Linked DNA regions of Homo sapiens. The protein of the gene in region 2 interacts with the protein of the main gene of each other region in a biochemical or structural test. Each region holds a gene or a part of one and is shown on either strand. Other genes may lie near its edges. The genes, in order: RALA, PLD1, ARL14 and ARL11.

Region 1 (5,100 bases), on a different chromosome or scaffold from region 2:
GATCAGGAATCAGCCATTCATCTAAGGAACTCAGGTTCTGTTTAGGAGGAATGATATTTAGCAGCCACAGCATAGTTACATAATTTGCTTGTTGCTATTGTGTTGTCATTTTTCAGTGAATAGTTCTAGGAAATAGGTATTATTAAAAGAAAAAAATGTGATCATGTTGTTATTTCCAATTCAAATTTAACATTACAAATGTTTACATCTTTGATTTTGTACTTGTATCTTTTCTCTTACACTGAAGATCTTGGTTCCTAAATTACATTAACATAATTCCTCCCTTGCATTAATAAAATAGTTCCAAAAGAGCAACATTGCTGTCACAAACAAACTACAAAATGAAGTTTGGCTGGGTGTTGTGGCTCACATCTGTAATTCCAGCACATTTAGAGGCTGAGACAGGTAGATCACCTGAGGTCAGGAGTTCGAGACCAGCCTGGCCAACATGGCAAAACCCCGTCTCTACTAAAAATACAAAAATTAGCCAGACATGGTGGTGCCTGTCTGTAATCCCAGCTACTTGGAAGGCTGAGGCAGGAGAATCTCTTGAACCCGGGAGGCAGAGGTTGCAGTGAGCTGAGATCACGCCATCCCACTCCAGCCTGGGCAACAGAGACTCTCTCAAAAAAAAAAAAAAAAAAAGAAGTTTAAGATTTGTCTTTGTTTTGTTTTGTTGGAATTTTGTTTCTATTTTTATCCTTAGCATCTATTCTAAAATAGATACTTTCTATGCTGTCTTATAGACCTTTGAAATAATTCCTCTAGTCAGTCTTACTTGTTTGTGTCTTGTTTGTTTGTTTTTTGAAATGGAGTCTCACTCTGTTGCCCAGGCTGGAGTTCAGTGGCACGATCTCAGCTCACCGCAACCTCCGCCTCCTGAATTCAAGTGATCTGCCTCAGCCTCTCGAGTAGCTGGGATTACAGGCATACGCCACCACACCTGGCTAATTTTTGTATTTTTAGTAGAGATGGGATTTCTCTATGTTGGCCAGGCTGGTCTTGAACTCCTGACCTCAGGTGATCCGCCCACCTCAGCCTCCCAAAGTACTGGGACTACAGGCATGAACCACCACGCCTGGCCAGTCTTAATTTATTTTAATTTGATTTTCAATTTTTAGGATTTGCTATTTTGTTTTATTTTTTATTTTTATTTTTTTGAGACTGAGTCTTGCTCTGTCGCCCAGGCTGGAGTGCAGTGGCACAATCTCGGCTCAGTGCAACCTCCACCTCCTGGGTTCAAGCAATTCTTGTGCCTCAGCCTTCCCAGTAGCTGGGATTACAAGTGCCCGCCACCACACCCAGCTAATTTTTGTATTTTTTGTAGAGACGAGGTTTCACCATGTTGGCCAGGGTAGTCTAGAACTCCTGACCTCAGGTGATCTGCCCGCCTCGGCCTCCCAGAGTGCTGAGATTACAGGTGTGAGTCACCATGCCTGGCCTAATTTTATTTTTGAATACGTAAAACACCTATGTCTCTAAAGTAGAAATTCTATAACAAGATACACTCAGAGATGCCTCACTCTTCCTTGTACCCTCCTCCCTTCTTCAAAATGAAATTGATTATTAGGGTTTGGTTTATTATTTCATTGTTCTTTGTGCAAGGGCGAACAAATCCATGTATACTCCTGCCCTACACACACACACAGGTAGCGCTCCATCTGCTATTCTGTGCCTTGCTTTTTTCAGACGCGTTAGGAAAGGCCACATCAGTCATGACATACACAGGCTTCTTTACTCACAGCACTCATTGTCGCTTTCATATTTCTTGCTTTAGTCTGAGTTTTTTAATTCTATAAGTAAAAACATTTTTTAAATCCAGAATTCAAAAGTGATCATAAAAGTTATTCCTCCTTTTATCATATACTCTCAGCCGTTTATGTGGAGTAGGAGTGTGAGTGTGTAGCCTTCCAGACCCTTCTGTGTTACAGAACAGAGGAATTTCTTATTGAAATTTAACTTTGAATTGTTATACTCGTAATTTTCTTAGTTACTATGCTAATATCTCATTATTTACCGGTTCCTAGACATCAGACAAAAACTGATAAATTCTCAAATACAGAGTAACAGACAAAGTTGTTTCATAGTGTCTGGTATCAAGATGATAAAGCATACACCCATCTTCCTCAGCTTCATTTCTAAAAATGGAACTGAGGAAACCAAGTTATGAAATATAATCAAATTATTAAATATAAATTTAAGCATATATTATTAAATATAAATTAATAAAATACATTTATTGATTATAAACTACTTAAATATAATCCATTGAGTTCTATCTTTGGGTCTGTCATCACCTTATAGAACTTTTTAGACTTTTGTCTCGAAAACTGGAACAGAAAGATCAGGTTTTATTACATATGAACATTTTTACCATAAAGTGTAATTCAGAAAACTTCCTAGTTTCCTCCTTTTTTCAAGATACTAGGAAAATCAGGCTTTAGTTTTATGCTTTCCGCTCTGTACTCCCAAACAAGAGCTCTTAAATATTTATACTTCTGTTACCCCCAAAGTTTACTGCTGTGATTTGGAGAAGTACCAAGTTCATGTATCTGTTTGCTTTATTTATCCTATTTTTTTTCTTTCTAGGTATTTTTTGATTTAATGAGAGAAATTCGAGCGAGAAAGATGGAAGACAGCAAAGAAAAGAATGGAAAAAAGAAGAGGAAAAGTTTAGCCAAGAGAATCAGAGAAAGATGCTGCATTTTATAATCAAAGCCCAAACTCCTTTCTTATCTTGACCATACTAATAAATATAATTTATAAGCATTGCCATTGAAGGCTTAATTGACTGAAATTACTTTAACATTTTGGAAATTGTTGTATATCACTAAAAGCATGAATTGGAACTGCAATGAAAGTCAAATTTACTTTAAAAAGAAATTAATATGGCTTCACCAAGAAGCAAAGTTCAACTTATTTCATAATTGCCTACATTTATCATGGTCCTGAATGTAGCGTGTAAGCTTGTGTTTCTTGGGCAGTCTTTCTTGAAATTGAAGAGGTGAAATGGGGGTGGGGAGTGGGAGGAAAGGTGACTTCCTCTGGTGTTTATTATAAAGCTTAAATTTTATATCATTTTAAAATGTCTTGGTCTTCTACTGCCTTGAAAAATGACAATTGTGAACATGATAGTTAAACTACCACTTTTTTTAACCATTATTATGCAAAATTTAGAAGAAAAGTTATTGGCATGGTTGTTGCATATAGTTAAACTGAGAGTAATTCATCTGTGAATCTGCTTTAATTACCTGGTGAGTAACTTAGAAAAGTGGTGTAAACTTGTACATGGAATTTTTTGAATATGCCTTAATTTAGAAACTGAAAAATATCTGGTTATATCATTCTGGGTGTGTTCTTACTGACACCAGGGGTCCGCTGCCCCATGTGTCCTGGTGAGAAAATATATGCCTGGCACAGCTTTTGTATAGAAAATTCTTGAGAAGTAACTGTCCGCTAGAAGTCTGTCCAAATTTAAAATGTGTGCCATATTCTGGTTCTTGAAAATAAGATTCCAGAGCTCTTTGATCGCTTTTAATAAACTGCAAGTTCATTTTAAATGAAGGGCCAGCATATATACTTGCAAGATAATTTTCAGCTGCAAGGATTCAGCACCAGTTATGTTTGAATGAACCCTCCTTTTCTCTGAGATTCTGGTCCCTGGAAATCCCTTTCTGCTAGTGGTGAGCATGTAAGTGTTAAGTTTTTAATCTGGGAGCAGGGCATAGGAAGAAAATGTCAGTAGTGCTAATGCATTTTGCACTAGAACGCTTCGGGAAAATATTCATGCTTGCCATCTGTTCATTTCTAAATTTATATTCATAAAGTTACAGTTTGATACAGGAATTATTAGGAGTAATTCTTTTCTGTTTCTGTTTATAATGAAGAACACTGTAGCTACATTTTCAGAAGTTAACATCAAGCCATCAAACCTGGGTATAGTGCAGAAAACGTGGCACACACTGACCACACATTAGGCTGTGTCACCATTGTGTGGTGTACCTGCTGGAAGAATTCTAGCATGCTACTTGGGGACATAATTTCAGTGGGAAATATGCCACTGACCGATTTTTTTTTTTTCCTCTTTGCAGTGGGGCTAGGACAGTTGATTCAACAAAGTATTTTTTTCTTTTTTCTCAGTCCTAATTTGAACAGGTCAAAGATGTGTTCAGGCATTCCAGGTAACAGGTGTGTATGTAAAGTTAAAAATAGGCTTTTTAGGAACTCACTCTTTAGATATTTACATCCAGCTTCTCATGTTAAATATTTGTCCTTAAAGGGTTTGAGATGTACATCTTTCATTTCGTATTTCTCATAGGCTATGCCATGTGCGGAATTCAAGTTACCAATGTAACACTGGCCAGCGGGCCCAGCAATCTCCATGTGTACTTATTACAGTCTTATTTAACCAGGGGTCCTAACCACTAACATTGTGACTTTGCTTTGAGACCTTTCCTCTCCTGGGTACTGAGGTGCTATGAAGCCAACTGACAAAGATGCATCACGTGTCTTAGGCTGATGCCACTACCCGATTTGTTTATTTGCAATTTGAGCCATTTAAAGACCAATAAACTTCCTTTTTTAAAATGTTTGTGGTGTTACTTGATGTTTACAATGTAACATGTAACATTCAAATGTATCAAATGAGGCATCTTTACCAAACAACTAAATCTTTTGAGCTCTCAGTTTGGAGACTTCTTTTGTGTAATGCCAGATTTCCTAAATAACAGTGTCAGCATTGCTCAGATTTAATCAAGGCTCAGAAATGGAAGGACTCGTGTACAACTACATTGAAGATATTCTATGCCGTCATGAAATGACAAATGTGTACATTACTTTTAGAATGCTCCAAACTCTAGAATGAATAGGTGACAGCTTTATATTCATTTTCTAATCAGAATGACCCCCAGAGACAATTTCCAAATTGTGGGAAGAATGACACCCTGTACCATTTCACCAAGCTTCAGGCCAACGTTTGATGTCTGGAGGGAAGCGTGGCCTATTAACTATCGAATAGCCTGCAAGTTAGAAACAATCCAGCCCAATATTGAGCACAACCTTTCAAAATCTGGTTCATTTTAATTTCGTAACTCATAAGCA
Region 2 (7,051 bases):
TACCATTGTAGCCATTTTTAAGTGTACATGTAGTGGCATTAAATACATTCACATCGTTGTGCTACCGTCACCACCATCCATCCACAAGACTCTTCATCTTTCTTACAGGGTTTTAATAACATTTTAATGATAATGGTTGTGTTGCAGGCTTTAGTTTTATCACTAAGCAAGGTTTGAGTTCCTTCTCGTAGCTTTAGAGAAATGCACCTTTTAAACTTTTTTTTTTGAGACAGGGTCTCACTCTGTTGCCCAGGTTGGAGTGTAGTGGCACAACAGCCTTGACCTCCTAGGCTCAAGTGATACTCCCATCTCAGTTTCTGAGTAGCTGGAACTAGAGGTGCGCATCACCATCCTTGGCCAGTTTTGTTTGTATTTTTATAAAGATGGCGTCTCACTGTGTTGCTAGGGCTGGTCTTGAACAGCTGGGCTCCCGCAATCCTCCTACTTCGGCTTCCCAAAGTGCTGGATTACAGGCATGAGCTACCATACCCAGCTGAGAAATGCACTTTTAAAAGAGAAAAGGTAAAAAGCCATAGCCAGACTGTTTAACAAATCTTATCTACAGCAGGAAAGACCTAATACATTACTGTTTGAGGATAAGCTTGTGATGTATTTAAACTTGTGTCTAAGGGTATTGTGGGGTTTAGCTGTCAAGAGGAAGGAACACGTAAGGGAATTATTGTTATTGATCATTTCCTCTCCTGAGTATCTATCAGAAAAATAACAATTGTCAGTGTTGTCCTCTATAGCAGTGCAAATAGTACCTATCTAAACTATGCTTGAGCTCAGGTAGTGTTGCCTTTTTAGTAACTAAAAGCAGTGTGTAGCAATTTCCTGTCCATCCCAGATGTTTACTAAAGATTGATACTAGGGGACCCAACACATAAGATATGTCTCTTTAAACTTGTAGTTAGGCTGAGTCATTGTGTTCACAAGAAAAGCTGTAGCTCTGCAAGGTCTGGTTTTGTGTTTACAATCCTTTAAGTCTTAGCACCACAAAATAAAATGTATTTGCTAGGGTGTGGCTAAAAGTTGTTGCAGGGTTAAAATGAGAAACATGTAAACCTAACTTTCCCATAAGCCTGTGACATTTCTGATTACAAAGAGAATCATACAAATCGCATCTTATGCTTCAGTGGGAACACATTCCAGTGTGTTAGTTTCCCTAAATTCACAGTGCAGTGTAAAATCTGGACCCCAGCTGTTTTAGTGCTGGGTTATTAAGCAAAAGTGTATGTTACGTAAGTGTTTCATAGTGTCACAGTGTTTTTTTTCTGTTGTGAAACTTTCTTAATTTTTAAATTTATTGAGCAAACATTACAACGACAGAATAAAATGAATTATTTATTTAATAAACACTTACGTGGTGTTTACTTTGTGCCTTGCACTCATCTAAGCATTTTACAAACATGAATACATTTAACCCTCAGAACAACCCTGTAAAGTAGGTAATCTTATTATGGCCGTTTAATTTATTTATTTATGTTTGTTTTACTGTATTTTATTTTGTAGAGATGAGGTCTTGCTATGTCACCCAGGCTAGTTTCAGACTTCTGGGTTCAAGTGGTCCTCCTACCTTGGCTTCCAAACGTGCTGGGATTCACAGGCATGAGCCACTGAGCCTGGCCTATGCCCATTTTATAGATGAGGCAGTTTGAGGCATAGTGAGATCCCACAACTAGCACATGGTAGAGCTGGGGATCCATCCCAGGCAGCTTGCACCCAGAGTTTTGACACTGCTGTCTGTCTAGAAAAAAACATAACCTGTGATTCCATCCTCTTAACAAACTTTTTTTTAGGTTTTTTTATTTCCATTTCGTCCTTGTTCTTTGACATAATTGCAATTATAGTGCAACTCAGACAATCTGTTCAAGTCCTTTATTTTTCGGAAAACGAAATTAAGGTGGAGCATGGGTATGTCAAAGGGTAGAAGCACTGGGGCAGGGTCCTGGAGATCCTCTGCTGGGCCAGGCCTTAACTCCTGATTGTGAGGAGATTGGGCCAGGGATCCTGGGAGAGTCTGGGAGGCCAGGTGTATTTGGAAGGGGTTGGGTGTTATGTGCAATATTTCCAGAGGGAAGCATTTCAATATTTTAATAATTGTTATGACCATACTAGAGCTAATCTGCTAAATAAGGGCCCACATTATGGCCGACTGGGTCATGGCAGGTCTTGCTTCCTAGGGCTCCAGAATCCTGGATTGCTTCCCCCGTTGCTCCTAATGCCCGTGACCCTCAGCTCCCCTCTGGATGAGGGCAATATTTTATTCTGTACTCAATCATTTTTTGAACTTTTTGGATCTAGAGTTGGGAACCTTTTGGAAGCCTCTGACGCACAAAAGAAAACCAGCCAAAAGCAACATGGAAATAAAAATAACTTAGTTTAGTCAGTTCTTTTGTTAAGAAAGAGAGAGAGAGACTTCTGAGGCCATAAACTTATGAACTTTATATTAAGAACAGGAAAATAAGGGTTCAGAATTTAACAGTGATCTTTTTCAAAGTAGGCTTTTACAGATGGCACATTTAGATGAAGGAGAATAGGAATAAACATGGGGAAAAGGAAAGCCGTAGAAAGGGAGGGGAGAAACAAATGCAGAGACGAGGCATTGGCAGAGGGCCACAGATAGGAAGCAGGGAGCTAATACCTTTGTCAATTCTTTACAAAAAGCCTTGCATCTCAGTGTGTTACCACTGGATGATGCCTTCAAAATCTCATAAGCAGTTGGAGATGATCTTTCCTTTGGTTTATCTTGATGGGATCTTAATGTTTAAACTGTTGCTAATCAACAAAGCATGTGGACAATAAGATACAAGGGAACTCTTAGCCCCTGATTGGGATCTTCATAACAGTCTAGTCTAGTTTGGTTTATGCCACTTTCCATGGGTGGATTTTATATGTAGTGTGATATTAGAATCACTGGATTTGCCATTATTTTTTCTATTGTCTGTCTTCCGTGTGAGAGGGCAAGGTCCTTGAGGTCACAGACTGTGTTTTTGTCATTTTTGTGTCTCCAGTGTCCATTGTAGTGTACAATAGATGTGAACTGAATGAAAGGGTACATGGATGAAGGGAGAAGGTGTAATCCATTTTATTCAAAATACATAGGTATTTCCAGAAAATAAGTCTTTATAATTAACGTTTTACTTATTTATTTGCTCTATGGTGCCATTTAACTATTCTTAAAAATAAAATGTGTAGATGTAGAATGGACAGTCTGTGGCATTTTGGGTAAACAGCTGTACTCACTTCATTGATCTTTTTCTGCCCAATTTCTGATGAAGGAGTCCTTTGAAATAAAGAGTTTGAGTAGGTAGCCATGGGTTGGGATTGGAGATTTATGACTTGGAGCAGAAAAACATTTCCAGATGTGTAGGGCAGTGGTCCTCTGAAGATACAGACCCAAAAGTGAGAAATTTAACCAAAGGGGCTAAGAATAGGAAAAAAAAATGAAGATGATGTTTTAGATATTGTTTTTTAAATGTCACCATTATTCCTGCTTTGGAATAAAAAGAGGTAAGAGGTAAGGTAGGAGTACAGAATTTGGGGATGAAGTATATTTTTGGCACTAACATCACTGTGATGTTAAAACTATTTTTAAAAGATAATAAATACCCACACCTCTGACTTACTAATTATTTTACTAAATTTATTGCTCTCTATGCTATTTATGTTTATTATTTCTATATGGTGAAAATACTGTAACTATTGCACGTCTTCCCCAAACTGTATGTTCTAGTGATATCATGTTGGTAACTTGGAAGCGGCCATGATAGGAATTTCTTTTTTTGAGACAGAATTTCACTCTTGTTGTCCAGGCAGGAGTGCAATGGTGCTATCTCAGCTAACTGCAACTTCCGCCTCCCAGGTCCAAGCGATTCTCCTGCCTCAGCCTCCCAAGTAGCTGGGATTACAGGTGCATACCACCATGCCAGGCTTATTTTGTATTTTTAGTAGATACAGGCTTTCACCATGTTGGTCAGGCTGGTCTTGAACTCCTGACCTAGTGATCCTCCTGCCTTGGCCTTCCAGGAATATTTACACCATCGAAATTGGCAAACACTACAGTTAGGGTTTCTCCTCCACCCGGACCTGGTTGCTAAGCATTTCTCAGCACACCACTGGCTTTGCCCAGGGGGTATATCCGAGCTTCTCCACCCCATCTTTCTTTCTCATTATGACCAAAGAGATTTCTCCTGCACTTTTCTGTCAACCGTCACAGTGATTCTGAATTTGGGGATGTGGTTGGGGAGAAAGGAATACGCTTAGTTATGCAATGTTCTTATCTCTCTGTGCCTATGATCTGGTCTGGTACAAGTCTCAACTGCATTCAATTTAACCCTTGATTCTTCCTTTTGTAGAGATAGAATTCTCCCTGCAACCTCCTGAAGAGCTGGCCTTCCCTCCTTCTCCATCACAGTAGTTCCAAAGTCTGGCTAAACAAAATCACCTGGGAACTTCTTAAAATACAAATTTCCAGGTTCTATCACATATGTAATAAATTTAGATTCTTGAGGAATGGGACTCAAAATAGTATTTTGTAAGTTCCCTTGGGAGTTTGATGATCACCCCATGTGCCTTCTGGGCCCCTCTTGTGGGCTCTTGCTCTCCAGCCCTGGCACCTGTGTACCTTGCTTAGAATCAGGTCATCTGGGCTGCTGGACCCTGGCCACATTGTATGGTAGCCTCGATTTTTATGTTTGAACTCAAATTCTGATCCTGTGAAACTTGGTAATCAGGGGCCACTCTTTGCCCCATTGGCCTGATTTCTCATGCTCATTCATTGGAGCCTGGGTTTCTAACTAGGAAGGCAGCTAGCGTGTTGCAGGGAGACTATCAGAGGAGTCAGGTGTGCTAAGTTTCATTTCTACTTTAGCGTCTGTGTAACCTTGATCAACTTGTTTCTCACCTTTCTGAACTACAGTTGCCTATCTCCAGAGTTTGTTAGGAAGGTTGTTTTTAGAACACATCAAGCTTTGTTCCATCTTAGGGCCTTTTAATCATGCTATTCCCTCTGCCTGGAGCACACTTCTCCTAAGTCTTTGCATGGCTTCCTTCTTTTTTGTCATTTGGATCAATGACAAAATGGTCAAATGTTATCTCCTTGGAAAGGTTTTTTCCCTGACCATTGAAAGCTGCCTCACTTCACAGTCCACATTGCATTGCTTGCTACCTGATCCTGTTCCAGCCTTTCACCTAGGGTTATTTTCATGCTAGGATTCACCACTATCTGAAATTCTTTTTCTTTTCTCTTTTTCTTGCTTACTGGGTTTTCTACACAAGAACTTAAGCTTTATGAGAGTAGGGACTTTCCTGACATGTAGTAGGTGCTCACTAACTACTTGTTGAATGACTACCTTTCCAAGTTGTTATATAAATATATGATGTTAGTGTGAACCCTGGTTCCCAAGGGATTCATTTGTTTTCCTAATTGTTCTTTTCTGACCTCACAGATGTTGCTGTTTTTATGACAATGATTCATTGCTGAGATATTACTGCAATTTGGAACAAAGTGCTGCTCTCAACTGATGAGAAATAAAATCTGTAGCTTTCTATGTGAATGCCTCCTGTCGTTTTCAGAGAGCTTGCAAAAACTTGTTTCAGTTGCATCTGTCATGTGGGTGTATAATCTGTGATAGAATGGATCGATTAAACATGAAAGTATCGTAACATAAATGAGACTGATTTGGGGAAACTCCTGTTTCCTACCTTTTTTGAGTTCTACCGGGGTGGTTTTTGGTAGTGTCATGGGGACTAGGGAAATGTGTATCACTTTGTAAGAAAGGCAGGCCATAGGCTGGGCACAGTGGCTCATGCCTGTTATCCCGGCACTTTGGAAGGCTGAGGCAGGTAGATCACTTGAGGACAGGAGTTCAAGACCAGCCTGACCAACACGGTGAAACCTCATCTCTACTAAAAATACAAAAATTAGCTGCGTGTGGTGGTGAGTGCCTGTAATCCTAGCTACTTGGGAGGCTGAGGCAGGAGAATTGCTTGAACCTAGGAGGTGGAGGTTACAGTGAGCTGAGATCGTGCCATAGCACTCCAGCCTGGGTGACAGAGCGAGACTCCGTCTCAAAACAAAAACAAGAAACAAAAAGAAAGGCATGCCAGAAACGCATGTTGGATATGTTCGTCCTGTCTGATCTCACCAGATACACGGGGTAGGTTTGACTGACAGTGAAGTAATTTTTGCAGATCCATTGCCTGGAAGGCCAATAAAGTTGGCAGTGAAAGCTTTCATCCTGTATTTGCAATAGCCCCTCTTCAGGATGGTGTTGAAGAATTTATCAAGCACAGAGTCTTTTTGGTGCTAACACAGTACTAGGCCTAGGCTAGTGAGTCTAAAATGTGGTTCCAGCCCCACAGCTTATAGTCTAATGCAGTCATCCAAAGGCAGGACTGAATTGTGCAGCAGAATCCTGCCAGGCCTCCTGAAATGGGCTGGCTTTTATAATGATTGTATGTTCCAATTTTCCTTGATAGTGATTTTCAAACTGCTTTGTTTCAGGGCAGTACAGTGGTATGAATATTTGTCTTCCTCAAATTCATATGTTGAAATCCTCACCCCAAGGGGTGATGGTATTAGGAGGTGAGGCCTTTAGGAGATGATTAGGCCATGGTGGCTCTGCCCTTATCAATGAGATTAGTGCCTTTATAAAAGAGGCCAGAGAGGGACCTCTGACTCTCTTCACTAAGTGACGGGTTAGTGAAAAGGCAGCCTCTGGGGAAGCAGGCCTTCACCAGACACCAAATCTGCAAGCACCTTGATCTTGGACTTCCTAGCCCCCAGAACTGTGAGAAGTAAGTTTCTGTTGTTTATAAGCCACCTAGTCTATGGTATTTTGTTACAGTAGCCTGAGTGGACTAAGACAGGTGGCTGGCATTGGAGTAGAGATTGGGTCCAGGGATGTAGACAGCAGACTTCTGGAGCATCTCTAAATACCACATTTAATCAGAGCATCTCATTTAGAAAACATACTATTGTATATTTGCCTTTTAAAAATTATGTTTGGGCCAGGCACGGTGGTTCATGACTGTAATCTCAGCACTT
Region 3 (5,710 bases), about 11 Mb from region 2:
GAGCTTAGGACTTTTTGCCTCACACCTCCATGGTAAGAAATTAAAGAAAATGTTTCTTTCATTCCCATATTTTAAAACAAATTTCCTGTGACACCACAGTTAGCCTGCCAGTAACTCTCTCACAAGTCTACCTTTATTTGCGTAATCTTAGAATGATTTACAGAAAACAAATACCTTGCCTTCCCTCAAGTTTGGCTGGGACACATGAATCCATAAATGTTTTGGGACAGTAAGAAAGGATATTGAAACATTTGTAGATTCTTTCATGACAATTAGCATTGACAAAGAAATTATCTTATTTCTTTTCACAGAAGAGAATCATATTCTTATGTGGATATAATATTCATGCAGAATTTAAGCCCTCATTTGTTTGGCTATCCCGAAAACAAGGTATAATTGGTCAGATGGGAGACAATGAAGGCATATATGTATGATCATGCTCATTACAGCAAAAATATATTAAAGGATGTCCCCAATACCAACGGTAGACCTCATAAAGCACTCAAATCATTGAGTTTATTATAAAATAAATGTTTAACTTCTTTCAAAAATTTTAATTGTTGAAATATGGAGGTGAGAAAGAGCTTAAGCAGTAGTGCAGTCAAAGTCCCTAAATTCACCTTTGGAAGTACGGACTTACCCCTAAGTAAGCTGAATTATTTTCTGTATTACTATGGACTACAGTCTAATTTTATTAGCTTATTTCAATTATATTCTTTTTTTAACATGTTATTTTGAAAAATTTCAAATCTAGAGGAAAGTTAAAAAATAGTAAAATGAACATTCAATACCTCTGACCTAGAGCCACCAACTATCGCCATATTTACACACACTTCCTCCCTCCCATATACATACATATCTTTGTGTGCATGTGTTTGCTGAGCCAGTTGAAATTAACTTGCTGATATCACCCCTAAGTACTTTAGCCTGTATCTCCTTGAAACAAAATCATCTTCCTACATAACAATTGAATTATTGCCTTCAAGAAATTTATCATTGATAAATAATACCATCTAATATACAGTTCATAATCAAGTTTCCCCAATTTGAATTTTCATAATTGTTATAGTAATTTCCTTAATCACTATTATTGACACAGGATCCAATAAAAGTTTACACAATGCATTTAGTAGTCATGTATCTTTTATTTAGAACATTCTTCCCCCGATCCTTTTTTTCCTTTCTGTCTTTCATGACATGGACCTACCTTGTAGAGTCCAAGTCTGTTGTCTTGCAGCATGGCCTATAATCTAGATTTATCTTATGGTTTTATCATGATAGTTCAAAATGTTTATGGAAGAAACCCCTACTTATCCATATACAGTTGGTTTTCCACATACATCCCCATATTTTCCCATTTCTAAGACTTTGCTCTCACAGACTGTTTCTTTCATGTATGCCCTCACGTGTCTCTACAAGGCCTGGTTCAATACTTAACCTTCTCCAGGAAGATTTCTCTGACGCCTTTCATTCTGAAAGAGTCTGTGAATACCTAGAATACATTAGCCTTTCTTTTCTTGTAGCATGTATAATTTTTTGACTTTGTATGTATTTTTATTTGGTCACATATCTTTTACCTTCTCCCCAGTGAAAGTCAACTAAAGGCAAGCCTAGTTTATCTTTGTGATCTCTCTGGCATCTAGCACAGACTAGGCCATCAATATGTTTATTTCCTGAATGGTTAGATGAATAAATCAATGAACAAATCAAAACAGTATCTTTAGCCTCTGAGATATAGTGAGTTGGTTAAGAACTTAATTCTTTATAAAAGGTTACAGAATTTCTTCATACGTGTGCTTTCTGCATCTAAAATAGTCTACTTATTTTGTGTAAAAACTCTAAATAAATTTTTAGTTTTAATAAGAAAACATGTATATCACATGGTATAGCTCTTTTAAAAATCATGTTGGTAAGCGTTGAGGGAAGTCTTTCAATCTGGCAAGTTCATTCTTTAGCTTTGGGAAGTGGTCCCATATTATTTCTTGATAATTTCCTCTTGTGCATATTTTTTTTCTCTCTGGAATAAGTCCTATAAATCAGACTTCTGAGTTAAGATTTCTGAGTTCATCCTCTATATGTCTTATCTTTTCTTCTGTATTTTCTATCTTCGACTTTCTGAAAGACTCCTTCAATATTGTCTTCCAGCCTACAGGTATTACTGATCTTTAAAATTTTTTGAAATTTGTGTTTTTAATTTTTAGGAGTTTTGTTTTTATTCTCTGAGTGGTCTGTTTAATACCATCCATTTCTTGTCTTATGGATGTAATATCTTCTCAAGTCTGTATAAAAATAGTAATTAGAATTTAATGAAAATGTTCTTCTGTTCCCTTCATTAGCTCTGTTTAAGCTTTCTTAAAAGTTCTTATTTTTATCTTGGTCTCTCTCTTATTCATATTGAAGGCATGCTATCCATTAAGTATAGAAACTTCTGTGCACTGCAAAGCTGATTGGGAATTCTATGTATGTGAGCAAGTTTGCCAACTGCCAGGTTGGCTATAGGTTAATTACATGTTGACTTTGGCATTATGGTCAGAAACTCCCAACTGTCAAAACATGGAGATCTTTTTTCTGAGATCATTCAATTTCTTTAATAAAAAACTCTTCAGTATTTTGCCTGGGAATAAACATCTAGTTGCTGAAGACACCCAGCAGAGGGGTGTGTGTGTGTGTGTGTGTGTGTGTGTGTTCTGTTTATTTTGGCTTCTTGTTACCTTCTGCTGTTTTTAGTCCTTTATTTCACCCCTTCTGTCTGCCATACCTGTCACCTCTTGTCTATCTCCTCTGCATCAGCACTCCAAGCCTTGGCTTTATCCTGCTATATCAGTTATCACTCATTTTTCCATCTAGTTTCCATTTTCCAGAATTTTGTTAAAATTTCTGACCCTTTGATGAATTATCTTGCTGTTTTGTTATGGATTTATATGTTTTTTTTGTTTTTTTTTTTTTGAGACGGAGTGTCTCACTGTCACCAGGCTGGAGTGCAGTGGTGCGATCTCGGCTCACTGCAACCTCCGACTCCCTGGTTCAAGCGATTCTCCTGTCTCAGCCTCCCAAGTAGCTGAGATTATAGGCACGGGCCACCACGCCCAGCTAATTTTTTTGTATTTTTAGTAGAGATGGGGTTTTACCATGTTGACCAGGCTGGTCTTGATCTCCTGGCCTCATGATCCACCCACCTCGGCCTCCCAAAGTGTTGGGATTACAGGCGTGAGCCACCATGCCTGGCCTATATGTTCTTTTAATGCCTTTACCATTATTCTGTGGAGTCTTGGGAAGGAGAGGAAATAAATGCATGTTTTTATTTGCCATCTTTAATTGGACTGCTTAATGTAAAACTGTTCGTGTTATAAATTCCCCCTCATATATTTGGTTTTGTGACTGCAGTAGTGTAAATTCTCTGCCTAGAATTTTAAAGAAAGTGATTCTGTATGTGATTAGGGAGTAAGGTTCAGATAACCTTGAGTGGTTTAAAGTTTCCTACTGAGTAATCTGAACAAGGCGGATTTAAGATACTGCAGACAGAGTGTGAGAATAACTCTCTCTTCACAACTTAAGAAGCCTGGTTCCTTATTTACAACTGGGATAAGATAAATGGTTGAATACCTAGAGAAGTTCCACAAAAAGTTACACAAAAAGTTTAGTTAAATTTAAGTTAAAAGTTAGTTAAAATGAAAAGTTAAGTTTTTATTCTGCTACTAAACCATGCTCCTCTGCGTGTCTGAACCTTCAGGTTCCTCTAGATTTCTAGCACCTGAAAGAAAACAAAACTGCAGCATCAGCCAGGTAGGCCTCTCCTAATCTTACTCATTCACAGAGAATTTCCCCTTTGAGTCACCATGGCATTGGCTGGTTACTCATACCACAGATCCCTCAGGATTGGCTGGGACTGCAAATAAAATACTGTTTGCCCATAATCAAGTTGATAAGCTACAACATAAACACATCTAGGTTCTTGTTCTTAGAATACAGCATGAAGAATTTGCTTTCTTCTTTCTTCCTAACATTTTCATGTGAGATCCAGAAAGGACACATTGTCTCTGGCCATTCGAAGAAAGAAAGAAAGAAAAAAAAAAAAGGTATTTAGAGACAGAGAGAGAAAAAGGCTGAAATGGGTTCGCTGGGTTCTAAAAATCCGCAAACCAAACAAGCCCAAGTTCTTCTTTTGGGACTTGACTCAGCTGGGAAGTCTACTCTCCTTTATAAATTAAAGCTTGCTAAGGATATTACCACCATCCCTACAATAGGTTTCAATGTGGAAATGATCGAGTTGGAAAGGAATCTTTCACTCACAGTCTGGGATGTTGGAGGACAGGAAAAAATGAGAACTGTTTGGGGCTGTTACTGTGAGAACACCGATGGGCTGGTGTATGTTGTGGACAGTACAGACAAACAGCGACTGGAAGAGTCTCAGAGACAGTTTGAGCACATTTTGAAGAATGAACACATTAAAAATGTGCCTGTTGTTCTATTAGCCAACAAACAAGACATGCCTGGAGCTCTGACTGCTGAGGACATCACCAGAATGTTCAAAGTGAAGAAGCTTTGCAGTGACCGGAACTGGTATGTGCAACCCTGCTGTGCCCTCACAGGGGAGGGGCTGGCCCAGGGGTTCAGGAAATTAACTGGATTTGTGAAGAGCCACATGAAATCAAGAGGAGACACTTTGGCGTTCTTCAAGCAGAACTGAGGCTGCGAAAAATCCAAGTCTCTACAGAGACACTGATGAAGTTGAAAGGGTAATTGTTTTTCCATGCCAAATGAGGAAATCAAATTAATGAGTTGACAAACTTTTCCTGAGATGTTATTTCATCTACATTTAGTTAAACAACTTAGAATGATATCTAGAAAATATTTATTTTCAGCCAGGAACTTTAGCAAACTGTGGCAATGATCACTGGGAATGAAAACGTATAATGTTCTACAATTTTTGTTATCACATTGGATGACTTTGAATATAGTAGTGACACTTGGGACCAAATAAATTATTTTATATGACTACTAGAACAAAGTTTTAGTAAGCTGTCTGCTAATAGAGTCAGAATTCTTCCAGATTGTTTCCAGCTGTAACAGGTATTGAATTTCCACCGTGCTCCTATGTAACAGCTGGGTGGTGTAAAAAATGAACTTCAAATTATGGAGTGGAAAAAGCGTAATGTTAATATCTTGTAAATTCGTATTCCCTATTAAATAAAGCTTTCTTATTCCCTAAATAAAGCTGTTCTTCTGGATTCCTGCCAGCTTTTTGAAATCTATTGCTGGGAACTTCCTCCAATGAATCTTAAACAATGAACTTCAGGCTGCTAATTGCTCAGAGCCTGTGTTCTGCCATAGGGAGCAGAAGTGTATAAACTTAAAGGTCTGGTGATCGGGGTAGCACCTTGGAGTTTAGGGCAAGATCTGGGCTCAGGGCTTAGCTCTAGGCTACAGCCCCGAGTCTTGCTTCCTTGGAATTCAGCTTAACAGCCATTGCTTGGAAACATATGTGCAGCTCATTGTACTGATCAAACAGGAACCAGACCTAGACTTTGCTCTCAGAGACCTACAATTCACAGCAGGAAACAACATAAAGCTAGTAGCTAGAGTAGGGCAATAAGTGCTAAGTGCGATTGCAGGAGATACTCTTTTTAACCAGGGAAACAAGAAATGTTTCATGCAGGAGATGGTATTTTAGAGGGTCCCTCACTCCCAGTGACCCTACAAAGGTACAGGT
Region 4 (6,902 bases), on a different chromosome or scaffold from region 2:
CTTGGGTCAAACAGATCCCATAAGAAACATCAGAAGAAGCATCCTGGCTTACAAGTTATTTTTTGGTGAGTGCAATGGGCGTGCCGTGCTCCTCCAGGCCTGACCACCTGTATGAGAGTTGGCAGGAGGACATTTCTAAACTCACACTCTTAGGGCAGTAGAGATGGGGCCTAAGACCTTTGTCTCTCCTGGTATCAGTGAGCCCCGTGTAGCCCCTTTTCCTTATTCCAGGTCTGGAAGCTGCAGTCACAGACACACAAAGGTGCTGGGGCTTGCACATTCACCAGCGTCACTTTCTCCAGCCACACCACTACGTTTGAGGGCTCTCCTGTCCTTCTCTAACAGAACTAGTCTGGGACTAGACGCCAGGCTTTGGGCTAAGTACTTGATGTGTCTTCACTTATTAAATCCTTCCAATAACCCTTCAAGTTAGGTACCATTATTATCGTCATCAACCTCATTTTATAGAGAAGGAAACTGAGGTGCAGAGAAATTCAGGTTGAGGTTCACAGCAAATAAGCAGTGGAGGCCAAGTGTGCCCCCAGGTGGACCCAAATCAAAGCCACACTGTTACCTTCTGCTCTGCGCTGCCTCCCGGGGCAGTAGCCCTCGTGAGCCTCCCCACGTTGGGGTGTCTAATGAAAAGCTTCCCTGCTGGTTGAGCTGAAGGGGTCAGGGTCGGGGCTGTACAGAGAAACTCAGGCCACAAGGGCCTTTGGGCAGAACTGGGGTCACAAAGTAATCATGGTTTCCCAGCGAACACAAGACTTTGGCCCTCAGGCAAGGCTCCTTGATGTCTGGGGGAGCCTGTGCCCCCCAGCAGTGCTCACAGATCCACCCCTGACTGCCAGCCGGCCCCTTGATGGCGGTGCCTGTCTCAGATTCTGTGGTCAGTGCCACGCAGCTACCTCCAGAGGCAGCCTGCAGCCTGGCCATGTGGCCCCAAGCTCCAGGCTAGAGGCCAAGGGGAGTGTCCCTTCTCTCTCTGTGTCACCCAGGGCATAGGTCACCCAGGCAGCCTGGCATGGTGCCTCCAAGCCACTGTGCTAATGCTTCTACAGCTTCTGCTCCCTCCCTGCCTCCATGGGGCCCAAACCTAGCCCTGGTGCTGCTCTGGGAACTGGGTCAGAGCAGCACCCCAGCTCCCCCACCCCCAGGAGCCCCTCAACCTTGGCCTGCTGTCATCCTCGTCCGGCCCCAATCTTCCTGCAAATCGGGCCCTTGCAGGATTCCTGCTGACTCAGCAGCTGGGCCCGGACAGGACTTAGTCCCAGCGTGAGCCGATCCCGCTGCAGTTTGGGCGAGAATGACAAGCCCTCCACCAGACGATTCTTTATTGCTCTGAGACTTCCCTGGGATAATTCCACCCCCAGGAGCACTCTATCTGTTTCTGTCTCCTCCCCACACACCCCCTGGCCTTGAAAAAGGATGATCACTGACCACAGGCACTGAAAAGAGCAAACCAAGAGCAGCATCAATACCCTCACACAGTGGTGCACATAACACACTTTGAGTTTCTGACTTTTCCTAATCAGTTCTTCCTGCTAAAATACAGTAGCTTAACAAAAACAATGACAACAACAATCTGGTGTTTGCCATTTACAAGGCACTTTCTGTGTGAGTAGCATGACATGGTAAAAGAGAAAGAGATGAATTATAAAACGCAGCAAGATCATGAGTCAATGATTCACCCTGTCCCAGCCTGCTTCTTTTTTTTTTTTTTTGAGACAGAGTCTTGCTCTGTCACCAGGCTGGAGTGCAGTGGCGCGATCTCAGCTCACTGCAACCTCCGCCTTCCGGGTTCAAGCGATTCTCCTGCCTCAGCCACCCGAGTAGCTGGGACTACAAGTGTGCGCCACCATGCCCAGCTAATTTTTGTATTTTTAGTAGAGATGGGGTTTCACCATGTTGGCCAGGATGGTCTCGATTTCTTGACCTTGTGATCTGCCCGCCTCGGCCTTCCAACCGAGCCTGCTTCTTTTCTTGTAAAATGGAAGAGTCATAACATCCAACTTGAGTCTTGATATTTTAATGAAATAATGCATGGGAAAGCAGAAAACAGCACAAAGATTACTGGTTATAAGAGCTAAATCACTGTGACTCCATATCCAAATTCAATACCTACTGAATCAGTGGTTTCTGACTAGTCAATTTTTTTTCTTTTTTTCTTTTTTTTTTTGAGACAGAGTCTCGGCTGGGTGCAGTGGCTCACACCTGTAATCCCAGCTCTTTGGGAGGCCGAGGCGGGCAGATCACTCGAGATTAGAAGCTGGAGACCAGCCTGGCCAACATGGCAAAACCCTGTCTCTACTGAAAATAAAAAAATTATCCAGGCATGGTAGCACGTGCCTGTAATCCCAGGTACTCGGGAGGCTGAGGTGGGAGAATTGCTTGAACCTAGGAGGCGGAGGTTGCAGTGAGCCGAGATTGTGCCATTGCACTCCAGCCTGGGCGCCAGAGCGAGACTCCATCTCAATTAAAAAAAAAAAATAGGAGAGAGACAGAGTCTCACTCTGTCTTCTAGGCTGGAGTGCAGTGCTGTGATCTCAGCTCACTGCAGCCTCCACCTCCTGGGCTCATGCAGTTCTTGGGCCTCAATCTCCCAAGTACCTGGAACTACAGGCACACATCACCATGCCTGGTTAATTTATTATTTTTTGTAGAGACGTGGTTTCACCATATTGGCCAGGCTGGTCTTGAACTCCTGAGCTTGAGCGATCCTCCTGCCTTGGCCTCCCAAAGTGCTGGGATTACAGGCATGAGCCCCCATGCCCGGCGACTAGCCAATTTTTTAAAAATTACATTTTCTAGAGGTGTCATTTTTACTGGGAAAAACACAGTGACACCATTCAAGAAAAAATTGAACGGTAACTTTAATCACTACATTAACACAATTTTAAAGGTTGATCTGCATCATACATACCTTTTAAAGAATGTTTTCATCATATGTAGACAGCTTTTTTTGTTTTTTGTTTTTGTTTTTGTTTTGAGGCAGAGTCTCGCTCTGTCACCAAGGCTGGAGTGCAGTGGTGTGATCTGGGCTCACTGCAACCTCCGCCTCCCGGGTTCATGCCATTCTCCTGCCTCAGCCTCCCAAATAGCTGGGCCTACAGGTAGGTGCCACCACGCCCAGCTAATTTTTGTATTTTTAGTAGAGACGGGGTTTCACCATGTTAGCCAGGCTGGTCTCGAACTCCTGACCTCGTGATCCACCCACCTCAGCCCCCCAAAATGTTGGGATTACAGGCCTGAGCCACCACGCCTGGCCATAGGCAGCTTTTAAAAGAACACATGTGCAGCCTGGCCATCATGGTGAAACCTGTCTTTATGAAAAATACAAAAATCAGCTGGGCATGGTGGCACCTGCCTATAATCCCACTTGCTTAGGAGGTTGAGGAGGGAGGATCGCTTGAGCCCTGGAGGCGGAGGCTGCTGTCCAGCCTGGGCGACAGAGCAAGACTCGGTCTCAAATAGAAAACAAAACAAAACAACAACAACAACAACAACAAACCATGTGTGATTCCAAGCAAATCAGAGAATCTCTAGCCACCAGAAAAACCTTGAGGCATGTACTGAAAGGAAGAGGTCAGAATTCTCTGCGAGGAGCTCAGAGGATCCTGAGGGAAGAGAGAAGGCGGCTGCGCTTGGACACAGCTCCGAGCTCGTGCTCCCTCCTTCAGGCACCCAAGTCTGAGTTGCTAAAAAATGGAGCTGTCACTGGGCCTTGCTCTGCCAGGACCTGCAGAGCCGGGGACCTCTCTGTGGCAAGCCCAGCAAGATGACTGCTCTGAGGCGCCCTAGGGCTGAGGGAGGGGCCGTGACACCAGCCCCGCCCCCCAGCCACCTGGGAAAAGGAAGCACAAAAAGGAGAAGCAGCAACGGCTGCTCTGCTTCCTTCCCATCTCGCTCTTGGGTCATGCCTGGCCAGCAGAAAGCAGCTCCATAGGGGAGGAGAGCCACGCAGGATCTCACAGCTGCAGTCTAATAGTAACACAGAGGTAATTTTAACTTTTTACTTTTCTACCCTTGGGAGTAGGGATGAGTAGAGGCTTACCTCCTTCCAGAGGCAGCTCATATCCCCCCACCCCCATTCCCGGAAGTTGAGATGTCTCTTCTCTGTTCCACGCAGGCATCGTCTAAGTTGGGAACAGGTCTTATGTCTTAAAATTTGGGATTCTTTAAAAACATATGTGGCTGGGCACAGTGGCTCACGCCTGTAATCCCAGCACTTTGGGAGGCCGGGCAGGTGGATAATTTGAGGTCAGGAGTTCAATACCAGCCAGGCCAACATGGTGAAACCTCGTCTCTAATATAAATACAAAAAGTAGCTGGGTGGTAGTAGTAGCTGTAATCCCAGGTACTCGGGAGGCTGAGGCAGGAGAATCCCTTGAACCTAGGAGGCGGAGGTTGCAGGGAGGCAGAGGTTGTGATGAGCCAAGATTGCACCACTGCACTCCAGTCTGGGTGACACAGTGAGACCCTGTCTCAAAACAACAACAAAAATGTGTGATGGCACATGCCCATAGTCCCAGCTACTGGGGAGGCTGAGGTGGGAGGATGGCTTGAGCCTGGGAAGTCGAGGCTGCAGTGAGCTGTGATCATGCCACTGCAGTCCAGCCTGGGCGACAGAGTGAGACCCTGTCTCAAAACAAAACAAAACAAAACAAAACAAAAAAACCCAAAAACAAACAAAAAAGCACATGTGGAGTGTTGTAGAAGTCATTGACCTTGGTAAGACAGTGGAGGAAACTGCTTTGCTCTGACTCATAAATTTGCCCCCAGTAAACAGTATTTATAAATAGCCCCAGTCAGGCACTGCATGAAGACATTTCAGTCAACGACAGACCACATATACAACGGTGGTCCCATAAGATTATAACAGAGCTGAAAAATTCCTATTTTTCAGCTTAGTGTTGTGGTGCAACCACTACCTTTTCTATGTTTAGATACACGAATACTTAGCACTGTGTTACAATAGCCTACAGTACCCATTACAGGAATGCTGTACCGGTGTGTAGCCCAGGAGCAATGGGCCATACCATATAGCCTAGGTGTGGAGTAGACTAGACCATCCACGTTTGTGTAATTACAATCTATGATTTTGTAAAATGATGAAATTGCCTAATGAAGCATTTCTCAGAATGTGTCCCCGTCATTAAGTGACACCTCACTGTGTTTCCAAGACATAGTACTGGTCCTTGGGAAGCTCTAAAGAGAGGTCACCGTGAGCTGAACCATCCTTCTCACTCTGTGCATGGAACCCAGCTTAGCTTCCATTTCAGCATTTAGGCTTATAGGAGGAGAAGAGGTTAGAAGCCACAGACCAGCAAGAATTGAAGACATCGTTCTGTAATTTCTACTGAACCAGCTCTGTCTGACTGGAACTTCATTTTGCCTCTTTGCTTTAACTCCTCAGGAATGTCTTCCAGGAGGCCCCTGATCTTCTCTGCTCAGGGACCACTCTTATCTGACCCAGAGACAGGTTAGCTGATGGTGACTCACACATCCTCACTTCCTTCAAAGCCCAGGCATCTGTTTAAAATCTGACCCTGTGAAGACTTTTCCTGTTTTGGAAAAACTCTTCCGTTGTTTGCCTGCACAGATTTGTGCTCCATTTTTAATTTCAATTTTTGTAGAGAAGGCGGGTCCTTGCTTTGTTGCCTCGGCTTGTTTGAAACTCCTGGGCTCAAGTGATCCTCCTGCCTTGGCCTCCCACAGTGCTGGGATTACAGGTGTGAGCCACTGCACCAGGATGGATTTGTCTTCCTTCAGAAGACAGTAGCTGATGTGTGCCCTGGCCTTTCTCCCCTAGGATTCAGCAGTGGCCACCATGGGTTCTGTGAATTCCAGAGGTCACAAGGCGGAAGCCCAGGTGGTGATGATGGGCCTGGACTCGGCGGGCAAGACCACGCTCCTTTACAAGCTGAAGGGCCACCAGCTGGTGGAGACCCTGCCCACTGTTGGTTTCAACGTGGAGCCTCTGAAAGCTCCTGGGCACGTGTCACTGACTCTCTGGGACGTTGGGGGGCAGGCCCCGCTCAGAGCCAGCTGGAAGGACTATCTGGAAGGCACAGATATCCTCGTGTACGTGCTGGACAGCACAGATGAAGCCCGCTTACCCGAGTCGGCGGCTGAGCTCACAGAAGTCCTGAACGACCCCAACATGGCTGGCGTCCCCTTCTTGGTGCTGGCCAACAAGCAGGAGGCACCTGATGCACTTCCGCTGCTTAAGATCAGAAACAGGCTGAGTCTAGAGAGATTCCAGGACCACTGCTGGGAGCTCCGGGGCTGCAGTGCCCTCACTGGGGAGGGGCTGCCCGAGGCCCTGCAGAGCCTGTGGAGCCTCCTGAAATCTCGCAGCTGCATGTGTCTGCAGGCGAGAGCCCATGGGGCTGAGCGCGGAGACAGCAAGAGATCTTGATCCAGACAGAGCAGCATATCTTTGCTCATACAAACTAGAAGAACCAGCTGATCCTTGAGAAATTTACGCTTAGTCTATCAAACAAGAAATGCTGGCTTGGCCCGGTGGCTCATGCCTGTAATCCCAGCACTGTGGGAGACCACGGTGGGGGAATCCCTTGAGCCCAGGAGTTGGAGAGCAACATCACAACACCCCATTTCTACTAATAATCAAAAAATTGGCCGGGCATGGTGGCATGTGCCTGTAGTCCCAGCTACTTGGGAGGCTGAGGCAGGAGAATCGCTTGAGCCCAAGAGGTAGAGGTTGCAGTGAGCCAAGATCGCGCCACTGCACTCCAGTCTGGGCAACAGAGTGAGACCCTGTCTCAATAATAATAATAATAATAATGATGATACTCTAAGAAAAAAATCTCAACATACTTCATTTAATAGCTCGTTACCAAGTGTGAATGAAGCAATATGTCATAATAGAGTAGCCACTG

What was found.
Region 1: the proteins of PLD1 (region 2) and RALA form a complex in vitro, tested with the Homo sapiens proteins (2 studies listed by BioGRID).
Region 3: of the proteins of PLD1 (region 2) and ARL14, one has a biochemical effect on the other in vitro, tested with the Homo sapiens proteins (one study listed by BioGRID).
Region 4: the proteins of PLD1 (region 2) and ARL11 form a complex in vitro, tested with the Homo sapiens proteins (one study listed by BioGRID).

What each region holds. Positions count from the first base shown.
Region 1 is NC_000007.14:39,703,534-39,708,633, forward strand, and holds the end of RALA (ras-related protein Ral-A precursor), read left to right. Parts: intron 1-2,589; coding exon 2,590-2,712; 3' UTR 2,713-4,587; downstream 4,588-5,100. UniProt on the Homo sapiens protein: Multifunctional GTPase involved in a variety of cellular processes including gene expression, cell migration, cell proliferation, oncogenic transformation and membrane trafficking.
Region 2 is NC_000003.12:171,800,470-171,807,520, reverse strand, and holds part of PLD1 (phospholipase D1), read left to right. Parts: intron 1-7,051. UniProt on the Homo sapiens protein: Function as phospholipase selective for phosphatidylcholine. Implicated as a critical step in numerous cellular pathways, including signal transduction, membrane trafficking, and the regulation of mitosis.
Region 3 is NC_000003.12:160,673,239-160,678,948, forward strand, and holds ARL14 (ADP-ribosylation factor-like protein 14), read left to right. Parts: upstream 1-3,921; 5' UTR 3,922-4,108; coding exon 4,109-4,687; 3' UTR 4,688-5,210; downstream 5,211-5,710. UniProt on the Homo sapiens protein: GTPase that recruits MYO1E to MHC class II-containing vesicles via the effector protein ARL14EP and hence controls the movement of these vesicles along the actin cytoskeleton in dendritic cells.
Region 4 is NC_000013.11:49,624,618-49,631,519, forward strand, and holds the start of ARL11 (ADP-ribosylation factor-like protein 11), read left to right. Parts: upstream 1-3,889; 5' UTR 3,890-3,998; intron 3,999-5,812; 5' UTR 5,813-5,830; coding exon 5,831-6,421; 3' UTR 6,422-6,902.